Homo sapiens: one gene and its partner. The protein of the gene in region 1 interacts with the protein of each later gene in a pairwise test. Each region holds a gene or a part of one and is shown on either strand. Other genes may lie near its edges. The genes, in order: AMER3 and AMER1.

What was found.
Region 2: the proteins of AMER3 (region 1) and AMER1 interact in binary tests that used the Homo sapiens proteins (3 or more experiments, as listed by UniProt).

What each region holds. Positions count from the first base shown.
Region 1 is NC_000002.12:130,751,383-130,758,925, forward strand, and holds the start of AMER3 (APC membrane recruitment protein 3), read left to right. Parts: upstream 1-4,157; 5' UTR 4,158-4,292; exon of another isoform or gene 4,293-4,500; intron 4,501-4,961; exon of another isoform or gene 4,962-4,999; intron 5,000-7,543. UniProt on the Homo sapiens protein: Regulator of the canonical Wnt signaling pathway. Acts by specifically binding phosphatidylinositol 4,5-bisphosphate (PtdIns(4,5)P2), translocating to the cell membrane.
Region 2 is NC_000023.11:64,188,709-64,196,267, reverse strand, and holds part of AMER1 (APC membrane recruitment protein 1), read left to right. Parts: intron 1-2,883; 5' UTR 2,884-2,981; coding exon 2,982-6,389; 3' UTR 6,390-7,559. UniProt on the Homo sapiens protein: Regulator of the canonical Wnt signaling pathway.

The DNA of each region.
Region 1 (7,543 bases):
CTCTTGTTGACCAGGCTGGAGTGCAATGGCGCGATCAGCTTGCTGCAACCTCCACCTCCCAGGTTCAAGCAACTCTCCGGTCTCAGCCTCCTGAGTAGCTGGAATTACAGGTGCATGCCACCACACCCGGGTAATTTTTGTGTTTTTAGTAGAGACAGGGTTTCACCATATTGGTCAGGCTGGTCTCGAACTCCTGACCTCAGGTGATCCACCCGCCCTCAGCCTCCCAAAGTGCTGGGATTACAGGTGTGAGCCACCGCACCTGGCCCCCAAGCACTTTTATAGGTTAAATGAGATTGTGCCAAATAAACTGTATTTCATTATTTTTTTCCCAGTGTTTAAGGGCATGGTTGTTAATAAGAGTGATAAAAACAAGAAACATAGCTAAGCCAGAGAACCTCCACATAAAATTTTAAAATAAAAGGGTTAGGGCCCGGTGCAGTGGCTCACACCTGTAATCCCAGCACTTTGGGAGGCCGAGGCAGGCGGATCACGAGGTCAAGAGCTCGAGATCATCTTGGCTAACTCAGTGAAAACCCCATCTCTACTAAAAATACAAGTGGCGGGCACCTGTAATCCCAGCTACTCGGGAGGCTGAGGCAGGAGAATGGCGTGAAACAGGGAGGCGGAGCTGGCAGTGAGCCGAGACTGCACCACTGCACTCCAGCCTGGGTGACAGAGCGAGACTCCATCTTAAATAAATAAATAAATAAATAAATAAATAAATAAATGGGTTTGAATGCTTACAAAAGTAGACTGGGACAAAGCTACAGTAATCGAAACAGTGTGGTACAAAGACAGACATACAGACCGATAAAATAGGATAGAGAGCCCAGAAACAAATCCTCAGGTATTTAGTCAAATGATTTTCAACAAGGATGCCAAGACCATTCAATGGAGAAAGGACAGTCTTTTCAACAAATTATGCTGGGAAAACTGAATAGTCACATCAAAAAATGAAACTGGACTCTTACCTTCTGCCATATACAAAAATTAACTAAAAATTGATCGAAGAGCTAAAAGTATAAAACTTTTACAAGAAAACCTAGAAAATCTTTGTGACATTGGATTTTGCAATGATTTATTTGATATGACACCAAAAGTTCAAGAAATAATACACAAAATAAATAACCTGGACTTTATCAAAATTAATGAAAACCACTCATCAAGAGTGACAAGGCAATCCACAGAATGAGAAAAAATATTTGCAAATCATCTACTGGGTAGGGGATTAACATCCAGAATATATAAACAACTCCTAGAACTCAACAATAAAGACAAACAATCTAATTAAAAATGGAGAAAGGACTTGAATAGATACTTCTCCAAAGAATATATACAAATGGCCAATAAGCATATGAAAAGATGCTCAATATCACTAATCATTAGGAAAATACAAATCAAAACCACAATGATATACGACTTCACAGCCATCCTAATGGATGGCTACTATTTATAAACAAATAACAAACAAACAAAAACACACAGAAAACAACATGTTGGCGAGGATATGGAAAAATGCTCTACATTGCTGGTGGGATGTCAAATTGTACACAGTGGAGAACAGTATGATAGTTCCTCAGAAAATTAAACATAGAAACCATTATGACTCCAATATGGCACTTCTGTGGTTTATATTCCAAAGAACCAAAAGCAGGAACCTAAACAGGTATTTGTACATTGCTGCTTATAATAGCATTATTCACAATAGCCAAAGGTGGTGCAACCCAAACGGTCCATTGACAGATGAATGGATAAACAAAATGTGGTCTCTACACACAATGGAATAATATCCACTCTTAAAAAGGAAGGATATTCTGATACATGCTGCAACACGGATACACCCTCAAAACATTATGCTAAGTGAAATAAGCCAGCCACAAAAAGACAGATACTGTATGATTCCACTTCTATGAGGTACCTAGAGTGGTCAAAATCAGAGAAAAGTAGAATAGTGGTTCCCAGCAGCTACGGGGAGAGGAGAATGGAGTTTTAGTGCTTAATGGGTACAGAATTTCTGTTGGGGTCAGGAACGTGTTTTGGCAATAGACTGTGGTGATGGTTGCACAACAGTGTGAGTGTAAATGCCACTGAACTGTACACTTAAAAAGGGGTAAATGGTAAATTTCATATTATGTATATTTTACCACAATAAAGAAAAAGAAACCGGCCGGGCGTGGTGGCTCACGCCTGTAATCCCAGCACTTTGGGAGGCGAGGAGGGCAGATCACCTGAGATTGGGAGTTTGAGGCCAGCCTGACCAACATGGAGAAACCCTGTCTTTACTAAAAATACAAAATTAGCCAGGCGTGGTGCTGCATGCCTGTAATCCCAGCTACTCAGGAGGCTGAGGCAGGAGAATCACTTGAACCCGGGAGGTGGAGGTTGCAGTGAGCCAAGATCACACCATTGAACTCCAGCCTGGGCAAGAAGAGTGAAACTCCATCTCAAAAAATAAGATAAAAATTTTTTTAAGAAAAAGAAACCAACTGTTCACTGTTTGGAAATATGAAATAAAAAAGTTTTTAAATATTGAAAATTTTAAAAGAAAAAGAAACAGCTCAAAGCAGTAGGTCTGATGGTACCCCACAAATGCAGCTGACGTGACTGGCACAGTGGATGGCCGACTCATTTGTGCCCACAGTCAACTCTTTGGCCTGCCAAGAAAGCAAGGGGTGGTGTGGCCAGAAGGTCTGAGACCCTGGGGACAACCAAGTGACCAGAAAGCTAGTTCCAGGAAAGAAAAGGTTTACAGCCACTGCTCAAAAACACAGATGAGAAATCTAAGTCAGTGTTTTGTGTGTGTTTTTTTGTTTGTTTTTTTTTTTTTTTTGAGACAGAGTCTCGCTCTGTCACCCAGGCTGGAGTGCAGTGGCACAATCTCGGCTCACTGCAAGCTCCACCTCCTGGGTTCACGCCATTCTCCTGCCTCAGCCTCCTGAGTAGCTGGGACTACAGGCGCCCACCACCATGCCTGGCTAATTTTTTTTGTACTTTTAGTAGAGAGGGGGTTTTGCCATGTTAGCCAGGATGGTCTTGATCTCCTGACCTTGTGATCCGCCCGTCTGGACCTCCCAAAGTGCTGGGATTACAGGCGTGTAAGTCAGTGTATTGTAAAAATAAAATGTAAGTTCACATTAGAATAATATTTAAGAAAAATCATTCAGTGGTATCTGAACTGGGTAGCCTAGTGTAAAAGATTTTTCCAGGAGTCCCTGGGGAAGACCTGATCCCACATCTTGGGGAAATAAAAAATTTGAAATATATATTTTCATGTTACCCAAAAGTTAGGGGTGTTTGAAAACTGTCTGAAATGACAAAGTAGAAGGGTTGGAACAGTTTGCAGTGGCCGAACGATGACCATGTGAGCATCGAAAATGAGCAATTGTCACTCACTGGAAGAAGCTGAATCTGTAATTATCCTCACAATTACATGATTTTATAAGACACATTAAAAAATCCTTAAATGCAAAAGCGGGGAGAGCCTAATAAGGAAGGCTAATGCTTACTAATTTTAACAAGAGGAGGACTGTGGGGTCTGCGGGAGTCCTACCCCTGACTTGGGGTGTATGTGGCAACGAGGCAGAAACTGCCTTCTGTCCTACCTAAGAGAAAGACAGGGAACTCCCACAGCCAGGATCTGCCAAAAAAGGTCAAGACTACCAGCAACATGGGCGAGGGGGCCTCTGGGGTCACGTTGAGTTAGTCGCTGCATAGAAAGAGGGCTCAAATCTAAAAAATGCAAGAGGGTAGGTCACCCAAGGGTGGGGAAGGTCTTGGCTGGAGGATGAAGGGGCCTCTTGTCTCTGGGGCGAGGCGATGTCAAGGGGAATGACAAACCAAACCAGTCCAAAGCAAGGGGACTCTGTGTCCTGGGTTCTCAGACAAGGTGACCGGGAGGGAGCCCACCAAGCTCAGGGAAAGGCCTGGCCTCCGTCATCCACCTGAGCTCTGCCTTCCCTTCAGCCTTAGCCTCAGCGTGGACCCGGGACTCCTGCATCCTCCCGTCCTGCCCCGCCTGGGCACACCACGGCCGAGAGCCTCCTGTTGGCATCAGCCTCTCCCCAGCACCGACTGTGCGCTCCCGCTCCCCCCTCCTCCCCACAACCCCGCCCCACACTACTGGCACTGCTGCCTGAGCCTTCCTGGAGTTACTTAATCCACCCCAGCCCCAGGCACTGAACCACGCGTGCAGACCCCTCGTCCTCAGTTCTGCGGAGACAGAGTCCCCACAGCATTTCTGCTCCTCCCTCAAGACTGCGGCAGAGCACAGCACCAGTAGACCCCACACAGTGAGTACCTGTAGGGCAAGTGCCTCTTTCGTTCTCTTAATAATAGAGTCAGGTCCCTTCTCCAAGGGAAGACCCTGCCTTGCAGCCCCAGCCTGGCCTGCCCCTTCTTGCAGGCCCGCTCCGAACCCTGGGTAAGACTCGTGACGAGGCTCCGGGTGGCCGAGCCCTTCCGAGAGTGCTGCGGTCGGCAGGGCTGGGCTGGCTCTCTGGGCTGAGGGGGAGGGGCTCCCACACCTGTGCGCTCCCGGAAGAGGGGACAGCGGCGGGGGCGCCGTGCGCACGGGGGCGAGGGGAGACGACTGCACCTGAGGGAGGCGCAGCCGCAACCGGGTGGGAGGCAGAGACACCCAGAAACAGAGACGGGGCGATACGAACAGACAAAGCCGGCTCGAGCGCGGCCCGAGCGGCGGCGCAGGGAGGCGGCAGCCTGGCGGAGCAGCCCCCACCGCGGCCGGCGCGCCCCCTCGCCACCCCTGCGCGCCAGCGCCGGCCCGCCCCTCCCGCTGGCCTCTGGCGGCTTAACCCTCGCCTGCCCGACCCCGCGGGGCCCCTGGAGCCGCGGTGGGTGGGTGCGGGCGCCGGGCCTCCCCCTCCCGGCCGCGGCGCGCGGCGCCGGGAGCTGACCGTGGTGCTGAGCGCGGCTCGCGCTCCGACGCGGTGCCCGAGCCTGTCGCGGCCGCGCCCTGCTGCACTGCGGGCCCCCAGCGGTAAGTCGCCAAGGCCCCGAGAGGCTGCGTTGGTCCTGCCCCGCGGATGTGGACCCCCGGGGAGGGCAAGGATTGGGGAATTTGGTGCATTCTCTGGCGCGATGGACGGGCTGAGGGCAGGAAGCAGGGTCGACACCCTCCACCCAGCGGTTCCCGGCGCAGTCAGGGGCCTGGGAGCGGTGACCCTTTTAGGTCTGGGCTAGGGAAGCGGAGAAACCCTCCGCCGGCGGATGCAGGAGCTGAGGGAGAGCCAATATCGCTGTGAGGCCCATCTCCTTGCCCCTGGGCAGGCCAGGACCGCCCAGAGGCGCCCTCCAAGGAGGTGGGCCAGGACCTTCCCTCCCCAGAGGGCCCTTTGTCTCCCCAGTGTGGGGGTTGGGTGGCTTGGTGGTGCTCTCACCGCAGATTCTATTTCTGTTTTATTCCCCATTCCCACCCCCACCCCAGAGCACGGTCGCTTTCCCTCCGCACAGTGGCCCTCACTCCAGCCCTCCCATGACAAGGCAGCCTACTACTGAGAACGCTATTGCCCCATAGCTCTACCGCCAGCCCAGTTTCCAGAGGTCCCTGGGCCTGCGCTTTTTTATCACCATACACTCCTTTGTATCACACTGCTGTGACTTTCCTGCATACCGGGGAAGGCATAGAAAATACCAAAACTATTAGCCAAACGTTTTTTTGTCTCAAGGCGTTTCTGTGGCATGTGTATTCCTCCAGGGTTTTTATTTTGCTCCATGAAATCAAACACCGGGACACTTTCAGGTTAAGAAAGGAAAAAAAAAGCCACGGAATTACCTTCTCAAAGGAAAAAGAAAAAGCTGGGCAGCTAAGCCTGAGTTGGTCATGTAGAAAAGCAACCAGTAGAATAACTTCATTTGCCCAATTTGCAATAAATCCATGTCTGTGTGTGCCGTGTAAAACACTGTGATGGGAGGTGCACAGACAGAGGAGTCTCTGCCACCACCTTCTCTCCCCTAAACCCTGCTTGGGCTCCTAACTCGCCTCTGTGTCTCCGCTGTCCATTTTCACCTGCATCTTTGAAAGTGAGAATTGGCCCGTCACTTGCCCTGGAAGGTTGGCTCCCTGTGGCTTGCAGATAAAAGCACGGCCCTCGCTGAGACCTCAGGCCGGGTGTGGTGTGTACAGCCCATCTCCAGGCCTCATCCCTCTGGCTTGCTGCTCTGGTCACTTGAGCTGCTTTCAGATCCTTAAATATTCTACTTCTCTTGCTCCTCGGGGCCTTTCTGAAGGGTGTTCTCTCTGCCTGGAATATGTGTCCAATGTCTTTTGCCTGGCTGTCCTCTTCTGTCTTTTAAGTTTGGTTTAAATATCACATCCCTGTAACAGAATTAATTAAGTAAATACATTGTGTGGTCCCTGTTCCCATGGAACTTGCAAGTTCGTCTTAGAGATGAAAGACTCAGCCCAGGGTCCTGGTGTCAATGCTGTCTTAAAAAATGATGCACATAGGCCGGGAGCGGTGGCTTACGCCTGTAATCCTGGTACTTTGGGAGGCCTAGGTGGGAGGATCACAAGGTCAAGAGATCAAGACCATCCTGGCTAACACGGTGAAACCCCGTCTCTACTAAAAGTACAAAAAAAATTAGCCGGGCATGGTGGCGGGTGCCTGTAGTCCCAGCTACTCAGGAGGCTGAGGCAGGAGAATGGTGTGAACCCGCGAGGTGGAGCTTGCAGTGAGCCAAGATCACGCCACTGCACTCCAGCCTGGGCGACAGAGCGAGATTCCATCAAAAAAACAAAACAAAACAAAAAACCCACCATCCTGGCCAACATGATGAAACCCCATCTCTACTAAAATTAAGAAAAAAAAAATTAACTGGGCGTGGTGGTGCGTGCCTGTAGTCCCAGCTATTCAGGAGGCTGAAGCAGGGGAATCGCTTGAACCCAGGAGACGGAGGTTGCAGTGAGCCTTGATCACACCACTGCACTCAAGCCTGGGCAACAGAGGGAGAAAAGAAAGAAGGAAAGAAGGAAAGAGAGAGAGAGAGAAAGGAAAGGAAGGAAGGAAGGAAGGAGAAAGAAAGAAGGAGGGAGGGAAGGAAGGAAAGAAGGAAGGAAGGAAGGAGAGAAGAAAATGATCCACATAAACTGTATCACAGAATTAAAATCTCAGACTCTGCATCCTGTTTAGGGAACTTAGGTGTAAACATTTGACTAAGATATCTCAAATATAAAATAGTTCATTTAACTAAGTAATAGCTCACCGCCTACTATAGTTGGAGTCCTGGACCTTAAAGAATTTTCAATCTCGTTGGGGAGTGCAATCAAGCACCAGAATGAATAGTTGGTGGTTGCTGAGCCCTGCAGACAAGAAGGCACCCGAAGGGTAGGGACGGGTCTGAACCCTCCTTGGGGGAGGGATGTGGCACTTGTGGGAGTGGACCTGTCATGTTTCTTGCTGGGGTTCCACTGACGGGTCTATAGCCACAGGGTTACAAAACAGTGTGCATTTTTGCAACTGAGAACCTGGACACATTTGGCCTCTGCCCTCAGGCAGTGACAAGGCCAGCATCTGGCTGTCCA
Region 2 (7,559 bases), on another chromosome or scaffold:
TGGCCCATTCAGGGTCCCTTGGCAGATGGGAGGCTGACATGGCCTGGACCCCAGCCCTGTGGTCCATGGCTCCTTCCACAACACACTGCAGCTCCCTGTGACAGGAAAGGGGACAATACAGAGAGAGGTGAGTGGGCTGGCCTCTACCCTCACAGAGCATAGGAGCAAGGGCAAGGGAAAGCCCAAAGAGACTGTCTTCTAACTGGGGCGTCAAGGCTCTGGAAAGCAGCCTTCTTTGTGATTCAATTTGCCAAATCACTCTGTTCCCAGGAACTCCAGCCCCAAACCCAGCAGGACAAGTCAGCCTTTGATTCACAAGGATGTGTAGGTCCTAGAGTTTTTCACTTGGCTGTGAGGTTTTCCTTGAGGCCCAGCCTTACTGCCCAAGAAGTGTCTTTCTCCCTTTCACATTTATCTTGGAATATGTTTACAAGGTATAAAGAATGATACTCCACCAACCAGCTTTAGAAATAACAGGGGCTATTCTTTAAGGCAGCGGTTCCCAACCTTTTTGGAACCAGGGACCTGTTTCATGGAAGACAATTTTTCCATGGATGGAGAGGAGGAAGGTTTTGGGATAAAAGTGTTCCATCTCAGATCATCAGGCATTTGTTAGATTCTCATAAGGAGAGTGCACCCTAGATCCTTCGCATGCGCAGTTTGCAATAGGGTTCACGCTCCTATGAGAATCTAATGCCTCTGCTGATCTGACAGAAGGCAGAGCTCAGGTAATGTTCACCTTGCCCTCCTGCCTGCCGGTCACTTCCTGTTGTTTGGTCCAGTTTCTAACAGACTGTTACATATAGGACTCTCCCTGTTAGCCTAGGAGCTCCTTAGAAGCAAAGGCTGGGAGTTCTCCCTTCTTGTCCTGCCCTGAAGCACTGAATTCCAGAGGGGAATAGAATTTCACAAACAACTCCAGTACTGCCTCCCCAACTCCCCTATCCCCAACACCGTGACGATAACCTTAGCAGTAATTTTAAGGCTGAGGTAAAAATGTGCTGTGGAAAGTGGGGCATTCAGACATGATAGGGCCCCTATTCCCACCAGACCCAGGGGCAGAAAACTGGGTGATTGTGTGTTTAGGTGTGATTGTGTGTGTATTTGGAGGTGGGAGGGGGCACTGTCTATTGTGGGACTATCAGTTGCAGGGCTGAGTTGGAACAGTGTGATGTCAAAATATGTTACAGAAAAATCTCTAACCTGAGCAAATGGCAATTCAGATCTCTGCAGAGAGAGGTTCAGATGAACTTTCCTTTTCACCTGCTCTTTTCTTTTCTGGATAACCAGCTGTTATCTTGCTCCAATTTTAATATTCAGTTATGCAGAGTGTTCTTTATGGAAGCTTGGATCATCACACTGATGATTCAAGTGTCAAGCCAAGCAAGGCAGCAGGCACAAAATTAATGTTTGCAAGACAGAACCAGGGGCTCCAAGGCTAGAGTGTAGCTGCCAGCCTCTTTCCATGCTCAGTGCTGGTCCACAGTCTTCCACTTTAGGTGAATGTGTGAGTCTTATTATTATGGCAAGCAATCACAGGCCTGGTGTACTGTCCAGCTGTTCTTGGACCAAGGGTGCTTGCTTCTCTCTCCCTCTCTTACTCTTCCTTCCCTCCCCTTCCCCTTCCCCTCTCCCCTCTCCTCCCAGATTCCCCCATCTGCTGGTGCCACTCTACAGAGAGGGGACAAATTGGTGAGGGACTTCCCAGGGAGGGGTCATTGGGTTTTAGCAGGCTGGTCACTGAGCTAGCGGATGACCAGAGGTGCAGAGGTATATTGTGGTGGGTAGTGGCTAGGTCTTGTTTTTATTCCATCTCTGTTGGTATTTGGGCATTTGGAGGATTGAGAGCCTTGACCAGAAGGGTGTGGCTTGCACCAGGTTTATTTATTTAAAAAGCCATTGGGAACCTATCTCACACACCAGGAATATGAATCATGTAGGGCCTTCAAGGAGTTCCCTTCCTAGATAGGGAGCTAGATGGGGACAAAAATAATAAGAGGAGGAGAGTAGAGGAGAAACAGTCCACCTCATGGTTCTCAAGTGGAATTTGGGGTTCCATTGATGACCGCATTAAAGTATCTTCCCAGCAGGACAGCCAATAGAGGGTCTGGCTTAGACCCACCCTCATATCACCTCTCTGAGGGAGAGATATTGATAGGCCTCTTGAATGGCGAATATTGAAGCCCAGAGAGTACCTTTCTTGAGGCTCCCATTTCATTGTCTTAGCAGGTTCTAGATTGCAGACCTACTTTGTGGATGTGTGAGGCTCCTATTCTGAGATTCTGAAGCCTGAGCATGGTTCTGCAGGCAATTTAGGAAGCTTTGGATGGGAGGTGAAACTTCAGGTCCACTTTTCAGTCTCAGACAAAATGTCAGTGAGAGCCCAGACTAATATGAAACTGAAGCTTGAATCCAACAGAGCCCTGTGAGGACTCAATGGACTGTTTTGCCAGATGGTTTTCAAAAATTCTGTGATGTTGGAGCCAACATCCCTTTTGCCTTTCTTGTCTCTCCCTATCCTCATCCCCTTTGATAATTGATAATACCTCCCACAGCCAATAGCACCACTAGGCCTTTCACACAACTGCAGGTCCCCCTGCCCAGTGGTCCCCTGAGCTTAGGATGGTCTGAAGGGAGTGGACCCAGCAAGAAGGTAGGGGATGAAGGCTTCTTGTTGCTCAGTGTAGAGTTTTGCTTCCTTGGGGCCCAGAGAGAGCTGGCCCAGCAAGCCAAGCATATCGAGTGGATTAAGATTTGCCCCACATTTTCCATCATTTTCTTTCTTGTTCCACTCAAGCCTGACGTCCGGTGAAAGCAAACCCAGCCTGGATGCTTGCTCACTAGTATCTGTCTCTCTGTCTTTGTCTCTCCTATCTCCTCCAGACCCCACTGTGATGCTTCCTGACTGATAATGTTATAACAGTGCCTGGAAGCCTGAGGCTGCATTTCCAGCTGGACGTACCTCAGTTGTCCCCATCATCATGGAGACCCAAAAGGATGAAGCTGCTCAGGCCAAGGGAGCTGCAGCCTCTGGGAGTACCCGTGAACAAACAGCAGAAAAAGGAGCCAAGAACAAGGCAGCTGAGGCGACAGAAGGACCAACCTCAGAGCCATCCTCATCCGGCCCAGGTAGGCTGAAGAAAACTGCCATGAAACTCTTTGGTGGCAAGAAGGGTATCTGTACTCTGCCTAGTTTCTTTGGAGGGGGACGGAGCAAAGGTTCTGGGAAAGGCAGCTCCAAGAAAGGTCTCAGCAAGAGCAAGACCCACGATGGCCTGAGTGAAGCAGCCCATGGCCCTGAAGATGTTGTCAGTGAAGGAACTGGCTTCTCCCTGCCTTTGCCTGAGTTACCCTGCCAATTTCCCAGCTCTCAGAGTGCCCATGGGGCTTTGGAGACAGGCTCCAGATGTAAGACATCTGTGGCTGGAGCCACAGAGAAAGCTGTGGCTGAGAAGTTTCCCTCTATGCCCAAGCCAAAGAAAGGCCTAAAAGGCTTTTTTAGCAGTATCCGCCGTCACCGGAAGAGCAAGGTCACTGGGGCTGAGCAAAGTGAGCCAGGGGCCAAGGGGCCTGAGAGGGTCAGAGCCAGGCCTCATGAGCACGTGAGCTCAGCCCCTCAGGTGCCCTGCTTTGAGGAGACCTTCCAAGCCCCTAGAAAGGAAAATGCTAACCCCCAAGATGCCCCTGGGCCAAAAGTTTCTCCAACACCAGAACCTTCTCCACCAGCTACTGAGAAAATGGCCTGTAAAGATCCAGAAAAACCCATGGAGGCCTGTGCCTCAGCACATGTGCAACCCAAGCCTGCCCCTGAAGCCAGTAGCCTAGAGGAGCCCCATAGCCCAGAAACAGGGGAGAAGGTAGTAGCAGGAGAGGTAAACCCACCCAATGGCCCTGTGGGGGACCCACTGAGCCTCTTGTTTGGGGATGTGACATCCCTGAAAAGCTTTGATTCATTGACAGGTTGTGGTGACATAATAGCAGAACAGGACATGGACAGTATGACAGACAGCATGGCCTCTGGGGGCCAGAGAGCAAACCGAGATGGGACCAAGCGAAGTTCCTGCCTGGTGACCTACCAAGGAGGTGGGGAGGAGATGGCCTTGCCAGATGATGATGACGAGGAGGAAGAAGAGGAAGAAGAGGTGGAATTAGAGGAGGAAGAAGAGGAGGTTAAGGAGGAGGAAGAAGATGATGACTTAGAATATCTGTGGGAAACTGCCCAAATGTATCCACGGCCCAATATGAACCTGGGCTACCATCCCACCACATCCCCAGGCCACCACGGCTACATGCTCCTTGACCCAGTTAGGTCTTATCCTGGCCTAGCCCCTGGGGAACTTTTGACTCCTCAGAGTGACCAGCAAGAATCCGCCCCCAATAGTGATGAAGGTTATTATGACTCCACCACACCTGGATTTGAGGATGATTCAGGTGAGGCCCTGGGGCTTGTCCGCAGGGATTGTCTACCCCGAGACAGCTACAGTGGAGATGCCCTATATGAGTTCTATGAGCCAGATGACAGCCTTGAGAACTCTCCACCTGGAGATGACTGCCTTTATGACCTCCATGGTCGAAGCTCTGAGATGTTTGACCCCTTCTTAAACTTTGAGCCCTTTTTGTCCTCCCGGCCACCTGGGGCAATGGAGACAGAGGAAGAACGGCTAGTGACCATCCAGAAACAGTTGTTGTATTGGGAGCTTCGGCGGGAGCAGCTTGAGGCCCAGGAGGCACGTGCCCGAGAAGCTCATGCCAGGGAGGCCCACGCCAGGGAGGCCTATACTCGAGAGGCTTATGGCAGGGAAGCCTATGCCAGGGAGGCCCACACTTGGGAAGCTCATGGCAGGGAGGCCAGAACCCGAGAAGCCCAGGCCCGAGAGGTTCGTTGTAGAGAGACTCAAGTCCGAGAGACCCAGGCCCGGCAGGAGAAGCCCGTCTTAGAGTATCAGATGAGGCCCTTAGGCCCATCAGTGATGGGCCTGGCAGCAGGGGTATCAGGGACCTCTCAGATTTCCCACCGGGGAATTACCTCAGCTTTCCCCACCACTGCAAGCAGCGAGCCAGACTGGAGGGACTTCCGTCCTCTGGAGAAGCGTTATGAAGGAACCTGCTCCAAGAAAGATCAAAGTACCTGCCTGATGCAGCTCTTCCAGAGTGATGCCATGTTTGAGCCAGACATGCAAGAAGCAAATTTTGGAGGATCTCCCAGGAGGGCCTACCCTACTTATTCACCCCCTGAAGATCCAGAGGAAGAGGAGGTTGAGAAGGAAGGGAATGCCACTGTGAGTTTCTCACAGGCCCTGGTAGAGTTCACCAGCAATGGGAACCTCTTTTCCAGCATGTCCTGCAGCTCTGACTCTGACTCATCTTTCACTCAAAACCTCCCTGAGCTGCCTCCCATGGTGACCTTTGACATCGCTGATGTGGAACGGGATGGGGAAGGCAAGTGTGAAGAGAATCCTGAGTTCCACAATGATGAAGATCTTGCAGCCTCCTTGGAAGCCTTTGAGCTGGGCTACTATCACAAACATGCCTTCAACAACTACCATAGTCGATTCTACCAAGGCCTGCCCTGGGGTGTGAGCAGCCTCCCTCGATACTTGGGACTGCCTGGCCTGCACCCTCGACCTCCACCTGCTGCTATGGCCCTCAACAGGAGAAGCCGCTCTCTCGACACTGCAGAGACCCTGGAGATGGAGCTCTCCAATTCCCACTTGGTCCAGGGCTACCTCGAGTCTGATGAGCTGCAGGCCCAGCAGGAAGATTCAGATGAGGAGGACGAAGAGGAGGAAGAAGGAGAATGGAGCCGAGACAGTCCCCTTTCCCTCTATACTGAACCCCCAGGGGCCTATGATTGGCCTGCTTGGGCTCCCTGTCCTCTTCCAGTGGGGCCAGGTCCTGCCTGGATAAGCCCCAACCAGTTGGACAGGCCTTCCAGCCAGTCTCCATATAGGCAGGCAACCTGTTGCATACCTCCTATGACCATGTCAATATCACTATCAGTGCCAGAGTCAAGGGCACCTGGGGAATCTGGGCCTCAACTAGCTCGTCCCTCACACCTACACCTGCCCATGGGCCCTTGCTATAACCTCCAGCCACAGGCCTCCCAGAGCATGAGGGCCAGGCCTCGAGATGTGCTGCTGCCTGTTGATGAGCCCAGTTGCTCTTCCAGTTCTGGAGGCTTCAGCCCCAGCCCTCTACCACAGGCCAAGCCTGTGGGCATCACCCATGGCATTCCTCAGCTGCCCAGGGTCCGGCCTGAGCACCCCCAGCCTCAGCCCACTCACTATGGGCCTTCCAGCCTTGACCTGTCAAAGGAGAGGGCTGAGCAAGGTGCCTCTCTTGCCACCAGCTACTCCTCCACTGCCATGAATGGAAACCTAGCCAAGTAGTTATTATCAATTCTGGAGTAGGGACACGGGGCCTGAGCATGTGAATGGGGATCAGGGGTTGGGCAGAAGGGTGGGGGGGTGGGGGTTGTTGTTTAACTTGAAAACCCTTTGGGCCAAGGAAAACTCCTGTGAGTTTTCACCTTGGTTTTCCCACTTGCCTCTTCTGCCATCTATGGCCACGTTCAACTCAAGTGCATCTGCCCAGGGAGGCTGCTGCTGCTACTGCACTCCAGTTTTTGCTTTCGAGGTTTCTTCTTGTGACCCACGCTGGGTTTGGGATGCTGTAATTTTGTGCCTATTCCAGTTGCCAAGTTAGTGATTATATATATATATATATATATATATATATATATATATATATATACACACACACACACACACACACACACACACATACATACACACACACACACAAACACACATGCACACACATATATAGCATGCATCCTTGACACAGGCTAAACCTTTAGTGCCCCCTGCCCCTTTCCCCCAATGAATGATGAACCACTGATTAGCAGCCAAGTCTGCATTGCCTCCCGCTTGGGGAAGTGGGGCTTATTTGCTATTAGCAATGTGAAATTATGGTACAGATCCTCCCCACCCCTATTCCTTTTGGCCTGGCATAGCTGCCATCATTATATCAGATGACTATAAGCTATTCATCCCAGCTAGCTGTCCTTAGAGAGGATCAAGTAGCGTGTGTCTCACAGCCTATCGCTGTGGACTTTGGCATCATGACCAGATGGGGGCCTTTTAACTGTCCTGCCATAGCTTGGGTTAAAGACAAAAATGCTAATCCCCTTGATGGAGTGATAAAATTCATCCATTTGCAAACAGAAGACAAAACAAGGTTCTGTTGTGGACACTGCCATAGAGTGTTGAGCTCCGGAATGATAGGATTTTTTTTCCTTCTTTTAAGCTTGTGACTACCTGAGTTGCAGATGCTTTTGAATTTTTGTTCTTTTTTCCTCTAAAGGAAATTTTCATAATCTCATCACAAGGAACACGGTCTTTTAATTGAGATAAGGGAAGAGAAGCAACCTAAATTAGGCTTGACTATAGGGGCTGGGGTTTTTGTGGAGTGTAGGGGAAAGATAGAAAATGAGGGTCCATTTATCACAGCCAGCAAGAAAGGGGATTTCAGACCATGCAGAGCTTAAGGTATCTCAG